Linked DNA regions of Homo sapiens: region 2 is linked to region 1. The links come from fine-mapping of genetic effects on plasma protein levels. A gene starts in region 1. The other region holds a variant in brackets. All regions are shown on one strand. Distances are between the middles of the regions.

Region 1 (10,442 bases):
TAAATTCTTCTGTAATAAAGGAAATAGTGACATATAAAGAAAAAGCTTCTTTCATTTTATTCCATTCCAATTCCTTTTATTGATGCAAAGTAGGAACTATTGGCGTAGGTGGGTTGTAGGGATTGAGAACATTTGGATTAAGGAATCACCTAGTACTTGAGAAAAGCAATGTAATATCAACTTCCTGCATTGTAGACATAATGAAAAATAAATTCTATTAAATAATAGATATCAATATAAGCTTCAATATATTCAATATAAGCTTGATAAGCACTTATCTTCAGTTTTAGGAAATGATTCTTATACCATGTTCTTTCCTACAGGTTGGTTGAGAAGACCATCCATCAGAGAGACATTGAACCACTTCTTCATCCTTCCCTCCAGTGGTTTTGTACCCTGAAGCGCAACCATAACGCATGTTCTCTTGAATTTTATACAATAACTTTACATCAGAGATGTAACCATTACTCAGGTCAGGCTTAGTGCATTTTTCTATGGGAAAAAAAATTATTTAACTTAATGATGAAACTAAGCTTGTCTTTTACTAAATTGTAAAATTAAGCCAAAAGTATAATGTTATTATTGGCGATTTCATTTTGGAAATATCTGCATAATTTTTTTGAAAATGGATTCAATTTAACACTGACTCTCTTTGTATTTACTAATTTTAGTTCTTATAGTAATTTCTACCCCTACCACATCTACTTCTAGATAGGTTTACTAGATATATCAACCACAATAGCCATATTCAACATCCTCTTTTAAACGAAACTGGCTCAACCAAAGCCCCTTACTCTGGGTCACCTGCCCTAGTGGAAGATCATTGATAGTTTGATGATAGTGTAGCCTGATATAAAATAATGAAATGAGTCAATTAGATTACCTTCTCACAACTTTGAACTCAAACTTTCAATTCAAAATTGAAAAACACATTTTTCAATGGGTATCATGAGAGAAGTTGGCACATGAAGAGAGATGAGTCTTACAAATGATAAAGCATTAGAGTAGCAATCTTGCCCTTCCAGAGGCCAGAGTTTCAAGCATTTTTCTGGCATCTTATGCTTAATTATCAAAATAAGTTTCTTGTTACTTAAAGTAAATTACCTCTCTTTGCCTTGCAATATGATAATTTCAGTTATTACCCTATTCCCTTCAACAGAGTATTATTAAAAACAGATACAGAAAATAACATTTTAATGTAAAAGCATTATTTACTGGATTTCAAATTATGCCTTCATTTTGTAGAAAGACAGATTGCTAGTGATTTTGTTCTTATCTACTAAAAGGTTTAACCGCTTTCCATTTTTATTGGACCCCTATTTTTATATACAAATTTCTTTGAGTATTGAAACATTGAGTGACATATCCAGCTGACTTACTGAAGCACCTTGGCTCTGGAGACCAGCCTTCTGTTGTACACGTGGTTTGCTCTTCTTGTCTTCCACTTTCAGTGGTATAACCAGCCAAGCAGAAAAATGACAATTTTTTGTCTATGCTCATTGGAAAGTAAAAGCTTTTAAAAGTATAGTAATATTGGGCAATTCTTCCATTTTCCACATGAGGAAAACCACAGGGTTTCTCTGAAATGAGTAAATGTCAAGCTGAAAATGGAAAAACAAATCTAAAAACATAAATTTGTAATCAGGTGACAATACAAACTAAAAGTTTTTAGAGACACTTCAACTAGTACTTATTTTTCTTACTTAAATTTTTAAGGTACTTTTGTGACAACTCAAGCAGTCCTTTTATCATAATTGATCTGCAAATGACTTTAAACATCCAACAGTCATGATAAAATTTAGCAGACCACTTTTTCAGGGAAGCTTTGCATAACTTCGTAGAACAGTACTTTTTTTTTTCTTCCTAGACACAGAGTCTTCCTCAGTTATCCAAGCTTCAGTGCAGTGCTGAAATATAGCTCACTGCCACCAGGAGCTCCTGGGCTTAAGCAAGCCTCCTCTCCTGTAGCTAGGACTGCAGGCACATGCCACCACATCTGGCTAATTTTTGTTTTATTTTTTGTAGAGATGAGGGGTCTCACTCTGTTGCTCACGCTGGTCTCAAACTCCTGGACTCAAAGGATCCTTCTGCTTTGGCCTCCCAAAGCACTAGGATTACAAGACTTGAACCACTCCACCCTGCCTGCACTTCCTAATAGATATGTATTGTAAGTCACTTATGTAATTTAAAAATTTCTAATAGTCACATTCATAAAAATACTAAGGAACAATTGAAGTTAGTTTTAATAATAGGTTTTTATTTAACCCAATATATTGAAAATATTTTACATTCTTTTTTTTTCTAACTCTTTAAAATCCACTACATATTTATACTTACAGAATATCTGATCTTGAACTAGTGACATTTTAAGTACTGTCTCCAATAGCTATATGTGGCTGATGGCCACTGTATTGGACAGTACAGTTCAGGAATAGGTAAAGTTTCTCCTTAACATATGCTAACTCATAAAAAATTTTGAAATAAATAGCATTAAAAGAAAAAACAGACAACCAAGTAAAACAAAGCAATACTTGGCAAGAACTTGGCAAAATAGGATATTTAAATGGTTAGAGACCTGGTACTTAGCATTACTAGTCATCAGGGAAATGAAAATTTAAACCACCATGAGATACTACTGCATATCCAATAGAACTGCTGAAATGAAAAAGACAAGCTATCTCAATGATTGTGAAGAAGTGAAGAAACTGGAACTCGCATATTTCTACAACTGAAAGTATAAATCAGTCCAAACTCTATGAGAGAACACCTTTGCAATATATATTGGGGTAAAACATGTACAAACCATATTACCCAATAAAAAAAGCACATATTTGTATACCAAAAGACATGGAAAAAAATGCTTATAGTGGCAGTATTCATATAGTCCCAAACTGGGAACAATCTAAATGCCCATAAATAATAGAAAAGATAAACACATTTTAGACTATGCATACAATGGAATATTATCCAACAACAGAAATGAACAAATGGTGAATCTCATAAACATAATATTGAGTGAAAGAAGCCAATCACATATGAATTAATGTATACATTTGCATAACTTTTTAAAAGAAAACAAACTAATCCATGATAATAGAAGTCAGAATGGTTACCTTTGGGGTTTAGTGCCTTAGAAGGATCATATTTCTGGGGTACTATCACTGTTCTATATCTTGATCTGGATGGTGTAAAATTTTGTAAAAACTATATAAGTGTATCCTGTGATTTTTGCATTTTTCTGGATATGTTATACTCCAAATAAAACATATATTTTAAAAATATATCTTTATGTTGAAGATCTTAAAGTCATAAAAACACTTAAAAGAAAGAAATGCTCGAACAATCCTAGGAGCTGTGGTGGGAAGAAACATGGGCAGTCATGGATGGAAGAAGGCCTAGATCCAGTGTGATTACTACGGCTTCAATGCCTTGGTTGATCACTGTATACCTTAATGCTACTATGAGACATAAAATACTAGTAGTGCTAGCCTAGGTTTGAAGGAAATGGATGTGGAATGATGAGCAACAAAACTTCCACTATCTGATGGAGCAGACAGAAAAACATGGGCTGGATAGTCCCCATTCCTTGAGAATTATTCTCACCATTTTTTCACACCCAAGCACCAAAGGAATTTACAATAAAAAGAGTCTTCCAAAATAGCAGTGCAATGGTGAATACACAAGAAATTTCCCTGAGGGGCACAGTTGCTTGTCAGGGAGGGGCAGCAAAGTATTCTCTGCACAACAATCCTAGGTTGTGGCTTTAAAGACTCTCTGTCCTGGGACATCTCCCTCCACCACCAGGATAGGCACATTATTTGTTAAGGTAGCTGGAATGCCTTGGAGAATATGAATTCCTGACAAAAAATTAATGAGAAATGTGAGGAATATACTAATCACATATAAACCAGGAAATCACAGATGTCTGAACATATTAAAAAAAGTACATGAAGCGATGGACACACTTACTACTGATCAGAGAATGGTAAATAAATAAAAATGGGATATCACTTTATGAATAACCATATAGCAACCAGTACAAAAATGGACAATATGAGGTGTTGGTGAGAATGATGAGGAGCAACAATTTACATCCTCTCTCAGAGATGATATACTTCAAAACTGCCATTCTGCAAAAGTAATCTCTCATTACAGAAATCAAGTACAAGAATAGACTCAATAATGCTATCTGTGAGTGAATACAGACTGATGACATTCTTACAGAAAGATAAGTTGGTTATATTACAATATTCATTCCAGAGCTATTTGTGGTTGAGAGAGCTAGAGTAACATGTTAAAACATTGTAGTAGGTCCCAGGGGAAATGGACTTCAAGATTAGGAATAAGGGGATAAAATGTGTAAGTAAAGCAAGAGTGAGACCTTTCATAGGCCAATAATACTTGCATACCATGAAATGAGAAACACAATTAATTCAATTCTTGTCCCTGAAGTGCACAATGGGAGTTGAGAGAAGCATGCAAAAATAAAATCATTGTCTTGGTCTTCAAGCAGCTTACTTTTTTTTTTGTTGTGTAAAATAGCATTATAACCTTATAATAATTAGAAAATTAACTAGAATATTGCAATGTCTTTATGGTATAGATAACAGACAATTATATCTGCTGGTATTTCCCTATTTAGACAGAAAAATAAAATCAAAAGAAATTCATGCAAAAATCATCCTATTATAGAATTAAAAGTATAAAATAAGATTAATTCTGTGTCTTTCACTTTTATAATTTTAATTATAGATGTTTTGGTAGAAAATTTATAGTTAACTATTCAACTAAAACACAGTTAAAACTTATGTATTTAATTTCAACAAATTCCCAAAAATGTTTATTTTAGAAAAGCTGTATTGCTGTAGCTTCCTTCTTTGTATGTTCACTCTTGCTAATGCTAAGTGTCCTCCCTGGATTCTTCATCCTATGGCCTGATAATATTGATAATGTTCCTGAACAACATACCCATGTACACTGCCTAGCTTCCACTCGCACACTAATCTTACACATTGGGCAATCTGACTATAAAGCTTTCTAATAGGGAGTCCATAGGTATTGGTTTGTTTGGAAAGTCCTGATTTACATGTGTTGTCCAAACAGTTATTAATAGAGCCCCTCTTTTACTCTCTAAGTGTCCCTGTTTGTACAAGCAATTATATGGTTCACCTACTAATCACTACTTAATGTCTCCAACAAATGAATAATTCATTGTGATAAAAATCAAAGTCTCAAAAGTAAAAAATATTTATGGCTATTTCCTTTTCAAATTTCCCACATTAAACTCTCACCTTATGAACAGAATTAAAATTGTACAAGTTTTGTCAGTATTAGGAATGGATTCTAGCATAAATTTAGAATTAAAGTTAACATGTGACTTCGAAATGGACATATTGTTAACCTGAAAACCTTTTCGAAGTATTTAGATCCTGGTCTCCTATGCCCCCTAGAGATACAAGGGTTTTTGTTTTGTTTTGCTTTTCTGACTTATGCTACTGTAAGAACACTTTACTAATTTTGCTCAAAGGAAAAGGTCTAAATATTATAAAAAGTTATATTTATAAAATATGTTATAAAATTGATAATGAAAATAGAAGAGTATATTAAAACTTGAGTTGTATAAATATTAGAATCTCCATTTGTATGTTTTAGAGAATAAAGAATATTAAGAATTAATTTTACCTTCTGCATAGAGTTCTCCTGAGATTATCAATATGATGATAAAAGTCAGGTTTTTCAACCTCATCTTCAGTGGTGTGCTTCACAAAGATTTTAACAATTCTAAGCACTAGGAACTTGTCATTAAGTACACAATACTTCTCTTGAGGAAAAAGTTAATAATTTATAACCTCTGTCTAAGTCCTTTTGTAACGAGTCTTATATTTCACTTAAAATATTTTGAAATAATGTTAAAATAACACAACTATATTAATTGACATTACTTACCATGTCAGAGTCCAGTAAGAGCATGATAACTGATTAGGGCAACAATAGCAGCAGAATAAATAATAAATTATAGCAGCAGAATAAATAATACTAGGTAAATTTTCAACCTAAGTTCCCAATTGTAAATTCATAGAGTAAAGTTCACTTGAGGCCATAGATCTTTACTAATATTGATCAGGTAAAAAGATGAACTTAGGAACATGAGATAACAGATACCTGATGTTGAAATATGTTGTTGCCTAGACTGCACTCCTTAAAGAGATACAGAACCATAGTTGTCTCAATGATAGAATAGTATTACTTATAATAGTAGTGTTTGACATTTAGAGAGTTTTTACTTTGTGGCAGGTGGTGAGATCAGCACTGTGCTATATCAACATTCATTCATGAGAAATGTTTAGAACGTCCATGATAATGGCAGCACATGTAACAGTTTTGAGGTATTTAGCAGTGAAAAAACTGGATTAAAATTATTGCCCTCATGGAGTTTACATTCTAATGAGTTTTAATTTAAAATACAAAATAGGAAAAAATGGTGGATAGGAGGCAGGACTAACTTGCAGCTCCCACTTGGATGGACAGAGCAGGATGTGGAGACTCGCATTGTGAACTTTTGCTCCAAGAACTGCTGCAAGGATATAACAGGAAAGCCAAGATAATCCACAGACCCTCTGAAGAAAGTATATTGCTCCTGCATGACCCAGAAAATAGCCCACATACTGTGAATGCCCAAACTGTGAAAAGTGTGAAAGGGGTATTGTCCACCCCTGAACACACACCCTTGGGGAACCTGAAGGTCTAGATCACAGGAGAAGGATTTGACCTTACCTGGAGCTCAGACAATTTAGAGAGCTGAGCGAAATACAGGGGTAGAGGAAGCAAAGGGTAAAGCCCCATCGTCTCTGTGGGTCCCCAGAGAAGCCATTTCTGACTTGTCTCACAGGGGCTGCCGGAGGAACTGGGAAAAGACCACAGGGAGAAGGAAACCTCCAGCTGAACTTAGTAACAATTCCAACCGAACACAAACTTTCCTGTCCAGAACTCAGGAAAGGGCGTGAATCTGGTGTGCAGACTTAACAGGTAGGGAGGCACAAAAGTCTGGCTTGCATTCTCAGCTGGGAGGCTAGTAGCCTGGGGCAAGTTCTCAATCCTGCTCCCCTACTGCCTGGAAACAAATTCGGTGCTTTTTGGGGGAACACAGTAGAAGTGAGATTTGCTTGTTGGGTTGTGTGAGAGCTGGGTGAGGTCTGTAACTGCCAGCTTTCCCCCACTTCCCTGACAACCTGCATGACACAGAAGAGGCAGCCATAATCCTCCTGGGAAGGTAACTCCATTAACCTGGGAATCACACCCCCATTCCCCACAGAGCCACAACAAGCCCCACCCAAGAAGACTCTGAGCTCAGACATGCCTAACCCTGCCCCCACCTGATGGTCCTTCCCTACCCACCCTGGTAGCTGAAGACAAAGGTCATATTCTCTTGGAAGTTCTAGTGTCCCACCCACCACCTGATCCTCCCCTATATACCACAGCTGATGCTCTCATGAAAGCACTACCTCATGGCAGTGTGTCTGGAATTGGTTCCTTCCAATGGGTTCTTGGTCTTGCTGACTTCAAGAATGAAGCTGCGGACGCTTGCGGTGAGCATTACAGTTTTTAAAGATGGTGTGTCCGGAGTTTGTTCCTCTGATGTTCAGATGTGTCCAGAGTTTCTTCCTTCTGGTGGGTTCCTGGTCTTGCTGACTTCAGGAGTGAAGCCGCAGACCTTCACAGTGAGTGTTACAGCTCTAAAAGATGGTGCGTCCGGAGTTGTTTCTTCCTCCTGGTGGGTTCGAGGTCTTGCTGACTTCAGGAGTGAAGCCACAGACCTTCGCGGTGAGTGTTACAGCTCATAAAGGTAGTGCAGACCCAAAAAGAGAGCAGCAGCAAGATTTATTGCAAAGAGCGAAAGAACAAAGTTTCCACAGCCTGGAAGGGGACCAGACCAGGTTGCTGCGGCTGGCTCGGGTGGCCAGCTTTTATTCCCTTATTTGGCTCCGCCCACATCCCGCTGATTGGCACATTTTACAGAGTGCTGGTTGGTCTGTTTTTACAAAGTGCTGATTGGTGCATTTACAAACCTTTAGCTAGACACAGAGCGCTGATTGGTGTGTTTACAATCCTTTAGCTAGACAGAAAAGTTCTCCAAGTCCCCATTCGACCCAGGAAGTCCAGCTGGCTTCACCTCTCAGCAGGAGGCCAACCAGCACCAAACTAGTGCATCAAACAACTACAACTAAGGACCCTCACAGAGTTCCTTTCACTCCCCTGCCACCTCTACTGGAACAGGTGCTGGTATCCATGACTGAGAGAACTGAAGACAGTTTACATCACAGGACTCTATGCAGACAACCCCCAGTACCAGCCCAGAGCCTGGTAGCCCTTCTGGTGGCTAGATCCAGAAAAGTAATAATAATCACTACAGTTTGGCTCTCAGGAAGTCACATCCCTAGGAAAAGGGGGAGAATACTACATCAAGGGAGCACCCCGTGGGACAAAAGAATCTGAACAGCAGCCTTGAGCCCCAGATCTCCCCTCTGACATAGCCTACCCAAAAGAGAAGGAACTAGAAAAACAATTTTGGTATTATGACAAAACAAGGTTCTTTAACACCACCCAAAAATCACACTAGCTCATCAGCAATGGATCCAAACCAAGAAGAAATTCCTGAACTGCCAGAAAAAGAATTCAGAAGTTTGATTATTAAGCTAATCAAGGAGGCACCAGAGAGAGGTGAAATCCAACTTAAGGATATCAAAAAAATGACACAAGATATGAGCGGAGAAATCTTCAGTGAAATAGATAGCATAAATAAAAAACAGTCACAACTTCAAGAAATAAAGAACACACTTAGAGAAAAGCAAAATGTACTGGAAAGTCTCAGCAATATAATAAAACAAGCAGAAGAAAGAACTTCAGAGCTTGAAGACAAGGTTTTCGAAGTAATCCAATCCAAAAAAGACAAAGAAAAAAATTTAAGTGAATAAAGCCTCCAAGAAGTTTGGGATTATGTTAAATGACTAAACCTAAGAATAATTGGTGTTCCTGAGGAAGAAGAAAAATCTGAAAATTTGGAAAACATATTTAGGGAAATAATTGAAAAAAAAAAACTTCCCTGGCCTTGCTAGAAATCTAGCCATCCATACACAAGAAGCTCAAAGAACACTTGGGAAATCATCATAAAAATATCATTACGGCCGGGCACAGTGGCTCATGCCTGTAATCCCAGCACTTTGGGAGGCCGAGGGAGGTGGATCATGAGGTCAGGAAATCAAGACCATCTTGGCCAAAATGGTGAAACCCTGTCTCTACTAAAATACAAAAAAAAAAAAAAAATTTAGCTGGGCATGGTGGCATATGCCTGTAACCCCAACTACGTGGGAGGCTGATGCACGGCAATTGCTTGAACCCAAGAGGTGGAGGTTGCAGTGAGTTGAGATCGTGCCACTGCACTCCAGCCTGGCGACAGAGCAAGACTCCATCTCAAAAAAAAAAAAAAAAGATTATTGCAGCTAAGTGTGGTGGCTTATGCCTGTAATCTCAACACTTTGGGAGGATGAGGTGGGCAGATCACGAGGTCAAGAGATCAAGACCGTCTTGGCCAACATGGTGAAACCCCATCTTTACTAAAAATACAAAAATTAGCTGGGCGTGGTGCCATGCCTGTAGTCCTAGCTACTCAGGAGGCTGAGGCAAGAGAATCACTTGAAGCCAGGAGGCAGAGGTTGCAGTGAGCTGAGATCGCGCCACTGCACTCCAGCCTGGCAGCAGAGCGAGACACCATCTCAAAATAAATAAATAAATAAATCTTCACCTAGGCACATAGTCATCAGTTTATCTGAAGTCAAGACGAAAGAATCTTAAGAGCTGTGAGGCAAAAGCACCAGGTAACATACAAAAGAAAACCTATCAGATTCACAGCAGATTTCTAAGCAGAAATCCTATAAGCTAGAAGGGATTGGGGACCTATCTTCAGCCTCCTTAAAAAAAATAATTATCAGCTAAGAATTTTGTATCCAGAAAAGCTAGGCTTCATAAATGAAGGAAAGATACAGTCTTTTTTAGACAAACAAATGCTGAGAGAATTTGCCACTACCAAGCCAGCACTACAAGAACTGCTGAAAAGAGCTCTAAATCTTGAAACAAATCCTGGAAACACAACAAAACAGAGCTTCATTAAAGCATGAACCTCACAGGACCCATAAAACAAAAATACAGTAAATAAATAAATACTTAAATAAATAAAATCAAGGTATTCAGGCAACAAATAGCATGATGAATGGAATGGTACCTCACATTTCAATACTAATGTTGAATGTAAATGGCCTAAATGTTCCACTTAAAAGATACAGAATTGCAGAATGGGTAAGAATTCACCAACCAACTATCTGCTGCCTTTAAGAGACTCACCTAACACATATGGACTCACATAAACTTAAGGTAAAGGGGTGAAAAAA
Region 2 (10,442 bases), 27 kb before region 1:
TCTCACTTTCTACATGACTTTTTCAAACTTTCTCCCCTCTCCTCAGTCCTTCAACTTGTCTCCCACGATAGCCCTCCACAGGGGAAATAAAAAACACATGACATGAATGTGCTTATTCCTGCCACAAATTCACTTTTCCTAGCCAAGGGCCATCCCTTTACTTATGGCACTGGTCCCATCTCTTCTTATTTTTTCAAGAATCTTCTACAATCTGTTATGCAATATTTTCTCAACATCTTCCACCTGGTTCTTCATTCTAATGTAATGTAAACATGCTCAAACTGTTCAAATTTCTCCCATTTTATTAAAACAAAAATCTTCTTTATGTATTTCTTTTTTCTTTCTTTTTTTTTTTTTTTTTTTTTTTGAGATGGAATCTTGCTCTGTCGCCCAGGCTGGAATGCAGTGACTCAATCTCGGCTCACTGCAACCTCTGCCTCCTAAGCTCAAGCAATTCTTCTGTCTCAGCTTCCTGAGTAACTGGGATTACAGGCTCATACTACCACGCCCAATTTTTGTATTTTTAGTAGAGACAGGGTTTCACCATATTGGTCAGGCTGGTCTTGAACTCCTGACCTCAGATGACCCACCTGCCTCAGCCTCCCAAAGTGCTGGGATTATAGGCTTGAGCCACAGCGCCCGGCAGACCTCCTTTATTTCTATCCCTCCATTCACTGTCACACATATTGGCAAGCTCACTACATTCATATTTCTGATTTTTTGTACCTTACATTTATTCCTCATCCTACTCTCGTCTCAATTTCCTACTGGATGCTCTTTCTTTCAAGGTAATCAATAATAACCAAACAGCATTTTTAGTCCCCATCTCTTCTGCTTTTCATTCAAATAGTTTGGCCATTTCTTATCAGTTTCCTTTGTTGTATCTTGTCCTATTCCCAAACACTAAACTTTGGTGCCTCAAAGCCCTGAAGTAGGCCTACATCTATCTTCACCCTGAAAAACTCGTCTATTACCTTAGTTTTATTAAACACCTACTGACTTATGACTCCAAATTATGCCTAGTGCTCTGTTCTGATACCCAGGCTTATGTAACTGTTACAGATTGAGCTACCCAGGGAAGTCAGCCTTGAGATGGAAATTAGCAGACAAGAGGACTTTCAGGGAGTATTCTTGGGCTTCACACCTGGGGAAGGGAAACGAAGGAAGTCAAAAGGGAGAAGTTGAGTTGCAATGTCATTTCAACCAGAGGCCCCAGTCAATACTATGAGGAACTCAGAAGCTGAAATTACTCTTTAGAACTGTCCTGAGTTTGGGTGAGGAGCCTTTTCTTTATAAGTCCTGTTGATCAATCATTAGTGTAGGCCAACCTGGGAAGAAGCTATGACCTTAGGGAAAGAGGCTCCCTTAAGCTGAGGCAACCCCTTTTAGGGAACTGATAAGTGAGAGCTCCCAGTAGCTGGAAAAGTAAGTCTTTGTGTTTCTGAAGGAAATCTAGGTGGTTCATCAAAGCATCAACCATAAGAATCAAGTGCTTCCTCAAGAATCACTTGAACCTGGGAAGAGAAGGTTACAGTGAGCTGAGACGGTGCCACTGCACTCCAGCTCTGTCTGGGTGACAGAGCGAGACTCTGACTACAAAAAAAAAAAAAAAAAAAAAAAAATCAAGTGCTTACTTAGTCTTTTCACTTTCCTATCTCACAGATACCTCAAAAGCACATTTCCAAAATTATTAATAAAACTCTTCATGCTAATCCCCACTCCCTCCCATTGCTTCTCCTTGCCATTCTTCCTATCATATTTAGATAGCCACTTAGTCAAGCCAAAACCTAGGAGTCCTCCTGAACTCTTTTCTCTGCCTCACTGTCCCCCACATCTAATCAATTATCATTATAATGATGTCACATCCTAAATATCTTATTTCAGCCTATTTTGTACCATCCTGCTGCTGCCACCGGTGTAAGTGACTACCTTATCTTTGCCAGATGACTGCCTCGTTTTCCTCAGTGATTTCTCTTTGCCCACACTTTTTGCCCTTCAGATCAGTCTCTCCATATTACAGTCAGTGATGTCTTTTAAAAATTCCCAGTAAGCATCGCATTCTATTTAGTGACTTCCAAAATCTTTAATTTGACCTACAAAGGCCTTCACAATCAGGGCTCCAACCTCTCCAAGTTTCGCATACTCCTCTCTGTCCTTCACTCCTTTCCACTCAATCCATACTGGGTTTTTATTAGCTTCTTGGAAATGTCATGTTCTTTGCTGTATTTCATGTTCTTTCTCTACATGAATTCTTATCATTTCTCCCATCCAATCTCAGCCTATATGTCACTTATATATCACTTCCTCACTGAAGACTTTTTAAACACCCAGTACTAGGCAGTATCATCTGGTGTTTACTGACAAAGATGGTGTCTTTGCTGCCATGCCTTATTTTGTAAGGATTTGCTTATATCTTTCTTCCGCTCCGAGAGACAAGCTCCACAAGAGCAGAAACAGTCTGTGTCTTATTCATTGTTTTATTTTCAGTGCTCGGTGTAATGCCTAGCATAGAGTATGAGCTTTGACTTTGCAAATGCCATTCCTTCTACTTGAAGTGTGTTTTCTAGTTTTGTAAACCTCAGATTTACTTTAACTTTTTTCCAAGAAGCTTCCTATACCACATTCATACAAAAAAAAAAAAAGGTTAAATACTACCTACTTTGTGCCACCACTTTACTTCGTACATGCTTCCACTGTTGCACTTTTCAAAATTTTTATTTCTTTAGCATGTGGAGTTTACTTTGAGCTGCACTGCCTAAATAATTTTTTATCTCCTCGCAACATATAAAAATCAGTGCATTTCACAATTAACAAATCAGAACATATGGCAATACTGGATACAATATTCCCCCATGACAATTATTCACCTTGAGCGAAGTAGTTGTCCAGGTTAAACAGTGCATGCCATCTCCAGTTCACTAGAAATATCACTAGATAAGCCACAATCATCACCCATTTTGAGTCTGCAATCACTAGTACAAGTTTATCTCTTTTACTAAGTAAGTAGTTTTTTACTTTGTGAGTTCTTTGAAATAACGAGGTGAATTTTAATCATTTTGAATCCTGTACTACCCAGCATGTTCCCTGGGATATAGCAGGTGCTCAATAATGTTATTTAATTGATAGATTGGGAAATTTATTTAAAAAGATTAATGCTTTTCTGTTGATATTTAATTTTAATTAAATTTCCATTTTTATGAGATCCACTGTGGGAACCTACTACAGGAGATTAATTAAAATAATGAATATGAACTCAAGGACAGTTCTGAAATATACATGTTTAACATTGAATGAATTAATACTTATTTAATCCACAGAGTTAGGTCAGCTGTGGCATCATTTCCAAAAGAAGCTATTTCATACCCAGCAGTAGAGAATTGTACATTGGGCATTTGAGAATATCATCGTAATGAGAAACTAAGATCTTGAGTTAGAAAAACTGAGTAGTTTCTAGAAAGGAAAACTCGTTCTAATACCAACAACCAATCCTAATCGGGGTCCTAGTATCTGGGTACTAGTGCTATTACATATGCTTATGAATGAGCTGAAATAATTAGAAGTATAACTCTCACTTCAAATGAAAAAGTGACAGTGTTGCTGTTTCATGTCTCTAACAGACCTTGATAATACTGACACTCATTTTTTGATGCTTGTAGAACTCTCTTATTTCAGATTTTGTAGTCTGCATAATTCCAAAAATTATTTGATATAAAAAAAGACTTGAAAGTGTAAAATGTAAAAATGCCAAGAGTCCTGGGAGGCCAAGGCGGGTGGATCACATGAGGTCAGGAGTTCGAGGCCAGCCTGGTCAACATGGTGAAACCTTGTCTCTACTAAAAATACAAAAAAAAAAAAAAAACCGTAGCGGGCGTGGTGGTACACGCCTGTAATCCCAGCTACTTGGAAGGCTGAGGAAGGAGAATTGCTTGAACACGGGAGGCAAAAATTGCAGTGAGCCAAGATCATGCCATTGCACTCTAGCCTGGGCGACAGAGCAAGACTCTGTCTCTAAATAAATAAATAAATAAATAAATAAAATTAAATAAAATTCCAAGGGTCATTCTTTCTTTAATTGTGTCTCTTTAACAATATTTGAGCACATGTTCAAATATGGTAGTACACCACCTCATAAACAATTTGGTTATTAACGTTGTAGCAAATATTACAGTTAATTTTAAAAGTTTTTTACATTTAGAAAGTCTGAAGGGCAGTCTCTTCTGCCTTTAATAAGGCAGATCCTCTAATACAGCATATAGTTTCTTATCTCTAGTGTGTTTGGCCCTTTAATAGTGACATAAACTTTGAATTAAGGGTAACAAAAGCCTTAATATTAATAAAGATGATGACGAATGTGAATGTGAAATTTTTGCACATACAGTATATTGAAAACAACTATATAGTCTAGTCAATGGGCATTAGGAAATGAAAATATGATGTGTAGATTAATTTGTAACAGATGGAAGACATACAAAAGAGATTAAGTTCTACATCAAATCATACAAACTAAAAATTAGACATTTATTGGTTTTCATTTATAAATAACGAAATGTTCAGCACAAATAATTTAGATTCAAATATTTAAGCAAGGAAAAACTCCGAAGTTTTTAACTTATTTCCTCAAAATTATATTTTATAAGGAATTTCATGATGTATTGAAATATGACTCCTCTTTCTGCCATTCATTTCTATGTTCTTAAGGGTTCTTGATAAGACAGAGTGCTTGAGGGGAAAAAGAGAGATTTTTGAAATAAGCATCAATTGCAGTCAGGTGTTAATTACAATCTCAGCCTTTCAATTTTTCATATAATGAGTCATTGTTTTTATTAAGTACTAATAAGAATAAATGATCTTACTTAGTAAATAATACCACCAGTTCCCTTTTAAAAATGCAATATTATTTACTACACTACTCATGATTTTTTAAATATTTTCTACGTGTTTACCTTTTTCTCTTAAAAGTGAGAAATTCATACTGTACCAAAACATTTAAATAGCATATAAAATTTTTTCCACCCTGATGCTACCACAATTAGAAATAAAAATAAAAATTTTTCCCACTATTGTGTGTCTTTTAAATATTTTTTTACTAGAGTGGTCAAAGCATCTAAAAAACTGACTTTATGTAGTTCATACAGTTCATTGTTTGCATTTTTTAAAACAGGACCACATGCACTTTGCCACTACTTATATTTTTAATATTCTTAGTTGAACAAAAAATATAATTTCCATTTTTTATATATAGTGTCTTCAAAAAGGGTTAAAATTGTGATCCTACAAAATGGTTTACATCATTTTATTATACTTTTTTAACATTTCTCTAAGAAAATTGTTAAATTATTTCCTGTAAGTAGCAGAGGATATATTTTTTAAACTGTCATATGAGGAAACACTTTAGTATGTAATTTCCAAAAGTTACACAAAAATGTGGTCCTGAAAATAAATACCACATTTTCCAACCTTTATTAGTAGTGCTTGAACTTATATTGAGAAGTAGGAGAAAGTGTGATTTTTGTCCTTATCACAGAACATATAGGTTAATTTTTGCACATTGAAATATTGCACGTATAAATTGGTTTATTTTTCCATTTGCCAAAGTGTCACAAATATCAAATGGCAAACGTTGCTTTCACTTCAGACAATTCAGAAGGCCTGTTGAATTGATTACCACTTCCAGTTGTTTGTTTG[G/C]TGTAAAAAAAATGAAGAAAATATTATTATTTTTTCTTTGCAATTGCCATAAAGTATGAGTGGTATAGAACATAACATTTCTGAAATGTTGAATAACAATCTGACCAAAAAAAATAATCTGACCAAAAAAAAAAAACTTCTTACCTTTGTCTTGGAATACATCTTGGATATTTTAACTGCCCTCTGTCACATTGCATTCTAAGTATAGATCCAGTAATATATAATTCAGCTGGATAAGTATCTCCTCTACAAATAAACTCAATATATTCACCATGCAAAATGTGTGGTCTATTGTCAAAATCCCATTTCAGAAGTAAATTATTCTTTTCCATTTCAGTAAAAGATAATGTGCATGGCTCTGGGAACAACAATTTAAAAAAAAAGAAAGAAAAAGAAGAAAACTATCTTGTTACATCTTGGTAAGAACAGGAATCGTTGTGTTGCCTACTCATGAGGACCTTAAAATTCTCAGGCCTAAGAGCAGCAAGTCAGTTAATCAGAATTAATATTTGAGTCAGAAAATATGTTCAAATCTCACAGAAAACAGTGAGCCATTTCTCTCTGTGGTCCTGGATTTGGAGAAAAGGTATTTTCTTCCAGTTTTAAAAACTAAAAGGTATTTTAGTTTTATGTCATTAGCTTTTTCAAAGATAGCAAACAAACAAAAAGGTATTTGGGGGGAAGCATTGACAGTTACTAATGGTCATTGATATCATGCTCTTTTCCCTTTTCCTTCTTCAGAAAGTTCAAATAAAATTCTCATGAGACAAATTATTAATTGCTGTATAAATAACATTTTATGGAAATGTAGATTCTCAACACTGACCCAAGCTTTATAACCTCATGCCATCCAAAATGGTTGACAGTTACTTCTCTTTCAAATTTCTAGTTAAGAAATATCAAGACTGGATTAAGACGTTTTAAATTCTAAGCATACAAAGTATAGTTGTGTCCTTTCCCATGTATCGTAAACCAAAGAGAATGGTAAAGTATGTATTAAAATACACAAAAAAACCTCTTCGATTTTTTTTACAGAATAAAAACATTAATATTTCTAAAATATCAAATATCAAATTATTTCAGAAAATGGGATTTCTTATGTCCTTATTTGTCTCCTGGATGACCTAGCATTAAGGAATAACTTCTGAGACAGGTAAAAAGGTCCAGAGTTGCTAATATGGCATATCAATCATATACCTGTAGTACATTAACAAACTTACTTACAGTATGCCCCTCCCTGATTGCCTACAGGGGATACATTTCAAGAGCCCCAGTGCATGCCTGAAACCGCAGATAATGCTAAACCCTGTTGTCATTCTTTTGGAACATGTTTCTGTTCATGTCTTCTGCCCACAAATTTAATGCCTCTTCCACCTCAACTAAACATTTATTATACACTGTGGCTTGTAACTTTTGCAGTTTGAGGTGCAACAACGAAACTAGCATGGATTTCTTTTTCCTTCTTCACACTTTCATAGACAGAAGACTCATTGTTACCATGGATCTTAGCAACCTCAGCATACATTTATTTTTCCTTTCTTTTTAAGTTAAGAATTTCCGCCCTTTCACTTAAAGGAAGCACTTTACAGCTTCTTTTTAGCATATCTGGGGCAGGAAGGATGGAATGGCATGAAATTTTATTATACTACTAAGTGCATAATTTAAAATTTATAAGTTGTTTATTTCTGAAATTTTCAATTTAACGTTTTCAGACTGCAGTTTATAGCAGGTAACTGAAACCACAGAAAGTGAAACCGCAGCTGAGAGCACTGTGTTCAGTTACTTTCTTCAACAACTACTTATTAAATGCCTATGTGTCAAACATTATGCTGGAAGTGCTACAGGTGATGAAAATGAACAAGAATTATTACACTCATTACAAAATAGTTGTGAAAATGAAGTCGAATAGCACTATAATTTACGATGTCACTGTTCTACAGAACATGAGATTTAAATTAAAATAAATTTAAAAGTTGATTCATGGACCTTTAACTTTCAGCTATGACAGAGGAGATTATATCAAACCAGCACTTCTATTAAGAACCAGAAAATCTGAAAAACAGGAAGCATTTCGAGGTATCAGAAAACCTCCAAGGAACTTAGTCAAGGAAGTAAGGTTCTGGAAAAAATGTATTCAGGTGAGTTCAACATCTATGTGAGGCTGGGCGTGGTGACTCACACCTGTAATCCCAGCACTTTGGGAGGCCAAGGCGGGCGGATCATCTGAGGTCAGGAGTTTGAGACCAGCCTGGCCAACATGGTGAAACCCCATCTCTACAAAAAAAAAAAAAAAATAGCCGGGCATGGTGGCATGCACCTGTAATCCCAGCTACTCGGGAAAGCTGAGGCAGAAGAATCTCTTGAACCTAGAAGGTGGAGGTTGCAGTGAGCAGGGATCGCACCACTGCACTCCAGCCTGGGCAACAAAAGGAGACTGTCTAAAAAAAAAAAAAAATTCTATGTGCCATTTTTTTCTCTTGAGGTGTTTGTTGACTCTAAGTCTGACCTGAGAGGTTAGATGATAGAGAATGGTAAGCTTAGGCATACAGCCAGCAGAACTTCTGAAAATCTCATGGAGTTGAAGATAGAAAAATGAGAATTTCGGTAAACCAAAGCAGCCAGGACTTGAAGAATAAAGAATTTAGAAGGATAGGAAGTGTAGAGATATGAGTTTGAGGCTCTGCACTAGCTTTTCCCTAAGGTACTGCTTATCCTTGACTTGTATAGAGGCATAGGATGAGAAGCCAAGCAGAAAGTAAATAAAAAGTTACAGTGGGCATTTGGCAGTCTCCCAGTAATATCAGAGACAGTCAAGGAGAAAAAGCTTTAATACACACAACAAACCCTCTGTAAAGAGCCCTGGAGAGTTACAGTCTGTGAGAAAAGGCAAACAGAGGTCTGAAAACAAACATAGAGAAAGCTTTATTTCTAATTGTATTAAAACCAACTGCCTCTACACTAATCATCAGCCAGAGGATGAGATGAGTCTTCTTTGGAGTAAGCTGACATCATCCAAACATCCTGAAATTTTCCACGTATAATATTTGGAATTCAATCAACTGTTAACAAAAATATCAAGAATTTGGGGCTAAAAAATAGATCCAGATATTGGAGTTTGCAGACAAGCCTTAATAAAAAGTATGAATTATATGTTCAAGAAGTTGATGTTAAGCTAGGATCTTTCATCAGATAACTCAAATCTACAAAAAGAAAATATAAAATAGAAATGCAAAGATGATAACTGAAATTGAGAACTCAAAAGATGAGTTTAAAGCAGATTGGATACATCTAAAGAGAGGATTGTTAAACTAGAAGAAAATTACCAAATAGAAACAAAGAAATGATACAATGAGAAAATTACCAAAAAATTACTACAGTGAAACAAGAAGAAAATGAGAGAAAATATAGATTTAAAGAGACAATGGCATAGCAAAAAGATGTAATATATGTAATATGGCATCACAGAAGAGGTGAGAAATGTACATTTTAAAAGATATTAGCCAAACATTTCTAAAACCCATGAAGGATATCAAGTACATCAAGGTTCAAGGAATGCTACTAACTTGAAGAACAAAATGTACAAAGAGAGTCTCATTGTGTTGCACTGATCTCCCTGGGAGCTGCAGACCGGAGCTGTTCCTATTCGGCCATCTTGGAACTAACTCATATATATATATATTTATATATATATAGAGAGAGAGAGAGAAAGAGAGAGAGGGAGAGATTTGTTTCTGATTTGTTTCTAAGGAACTCCAGCCTGGGCAGCACAGTGAGAAATGGTACACTCCTGACCAAATACTGTGCTTTTCCCAAGGTCTTAGCCACCGACAGACCAGGAGATACCCTCCCTTGCCTGGCTCAGCAGTTTCCACGCCCATGGAGCCTTGCTCACTGCTAGCTCAGCAGTCTGAGATCAACCTGTGACACGACAGCGTTATGGGGGGAGGGTCGTCTACTATTGCTGAGCAGGGGTTACAATCCTAGTCTCTGATAAAACAGACTTTAAACCAACAAAGATCAAAAGAGACAAAGAAGGCCATTACATAATGGTAAAGGGATCAATTCAACAAGAAGAACTAACTATTCTAAATATATATGCACCCAATTCAGGAGCACCCAGGTTAATAAAGCAAGTCCTTAGAGACCTGCAAAGAGATTTAGACTCCCACACAATAATAATGGGAGACTTTAACACCCCACTGTCAATACTAGACAGATCAACGAGACAGAAGGTAAATAAGAATATCCAGGACTTGAACTCAGCTCTGGACCAAGCAGACCTAATGGACATCTGCATAACTCTCCACTCCAAATCAAAAGAATATACATTCTTCTCAGCACCACACTGCACTTATTCCAAAATTGACCACATAACTGCAAGTAAAACACTCTTTGGCAAATGAAAAAGAACAGAAATCACAACAAACTGTCTCTCAGACCACAGTGCAATCAAATTAGAACTCAGGATTAAGAAACTCACTCAAAACTGCACAACTACATGGAAACTGAACAGCCTACTCCTGAATGACTACTAGATAAATAACGAAATGAAGGCAGAAATAAAGATGTTCTTTGAACCCAGTAAGGACAAAGACACTACGTACCAGAATCTCTGGGACACATTTAAAGCAGTGTGTAGTGGGAAATTTATAGCACTAAATGCCCACAAGAGAATGCAGGAAAGATCTAAAATCGACACCCTAACATCACAATGAAAGAACTAGAGAAGCAAGAGCAAACACATTCAAACGCTAGCA

Which allele goes with the higher level. Alleles are on the strand shown, and positions count from the first base shown. The strength of an association depends on the size of the effect and on how common the allele is.
With allele G in place of C in region 2, the plasma level of the protein whose gene starts at base 5,783 in region 1 is higher (strong association).

What was found. A credible set is the group of variants that fine-mapping cannot tell apart. PIP is the chance, under the fine-mapping model, that this variant and not a neighbour inherited with it causes the effect. Protein levels are from antibody-based Olink assays in UK Biobank. Linkage for the fine-mapping came from a reference panel and not from the study's own genotypes, which makes the PIPs less certain.
Region 2: its variant is the best candidate, but not a certain one, in a credible set for the plasma level of the F13B protein (UK Biobank, PIP 0.61).

The regions. Positions count from the first base shown.
Region 1 is chr1:197,061,478-197,071,919 of GRCh38, forward strand. F13B (coagulation factor XIII B chain) reads right to left here and starts at 5,783. Exons shown (of 12, transcript NM_001994.3): 1 at 5,683-5,783; 2 at 1,380-1,580; 3 at 307-492. The coding sequence starts at 5,746. RefSeq lists an enhancer at 6,891-8,090.
Region 2 is chr1:197,034,693-197,045,134 of GRCh38, forward strand. It overlaps F13B (coagulation factor XIII B chain), which reads right to left. Exons shown (of 12, transcript NM_001994.3): 11 at 5,830-6,043; 12 at 4,049-4,719. The coding sequence ends at 4,686. Among named protein-coding and RNA genes, the nearest start is that of F13B, 27 kb to the right of the region's middle. The variant G/C (reference allele first, on the strand shown) is at 5,686.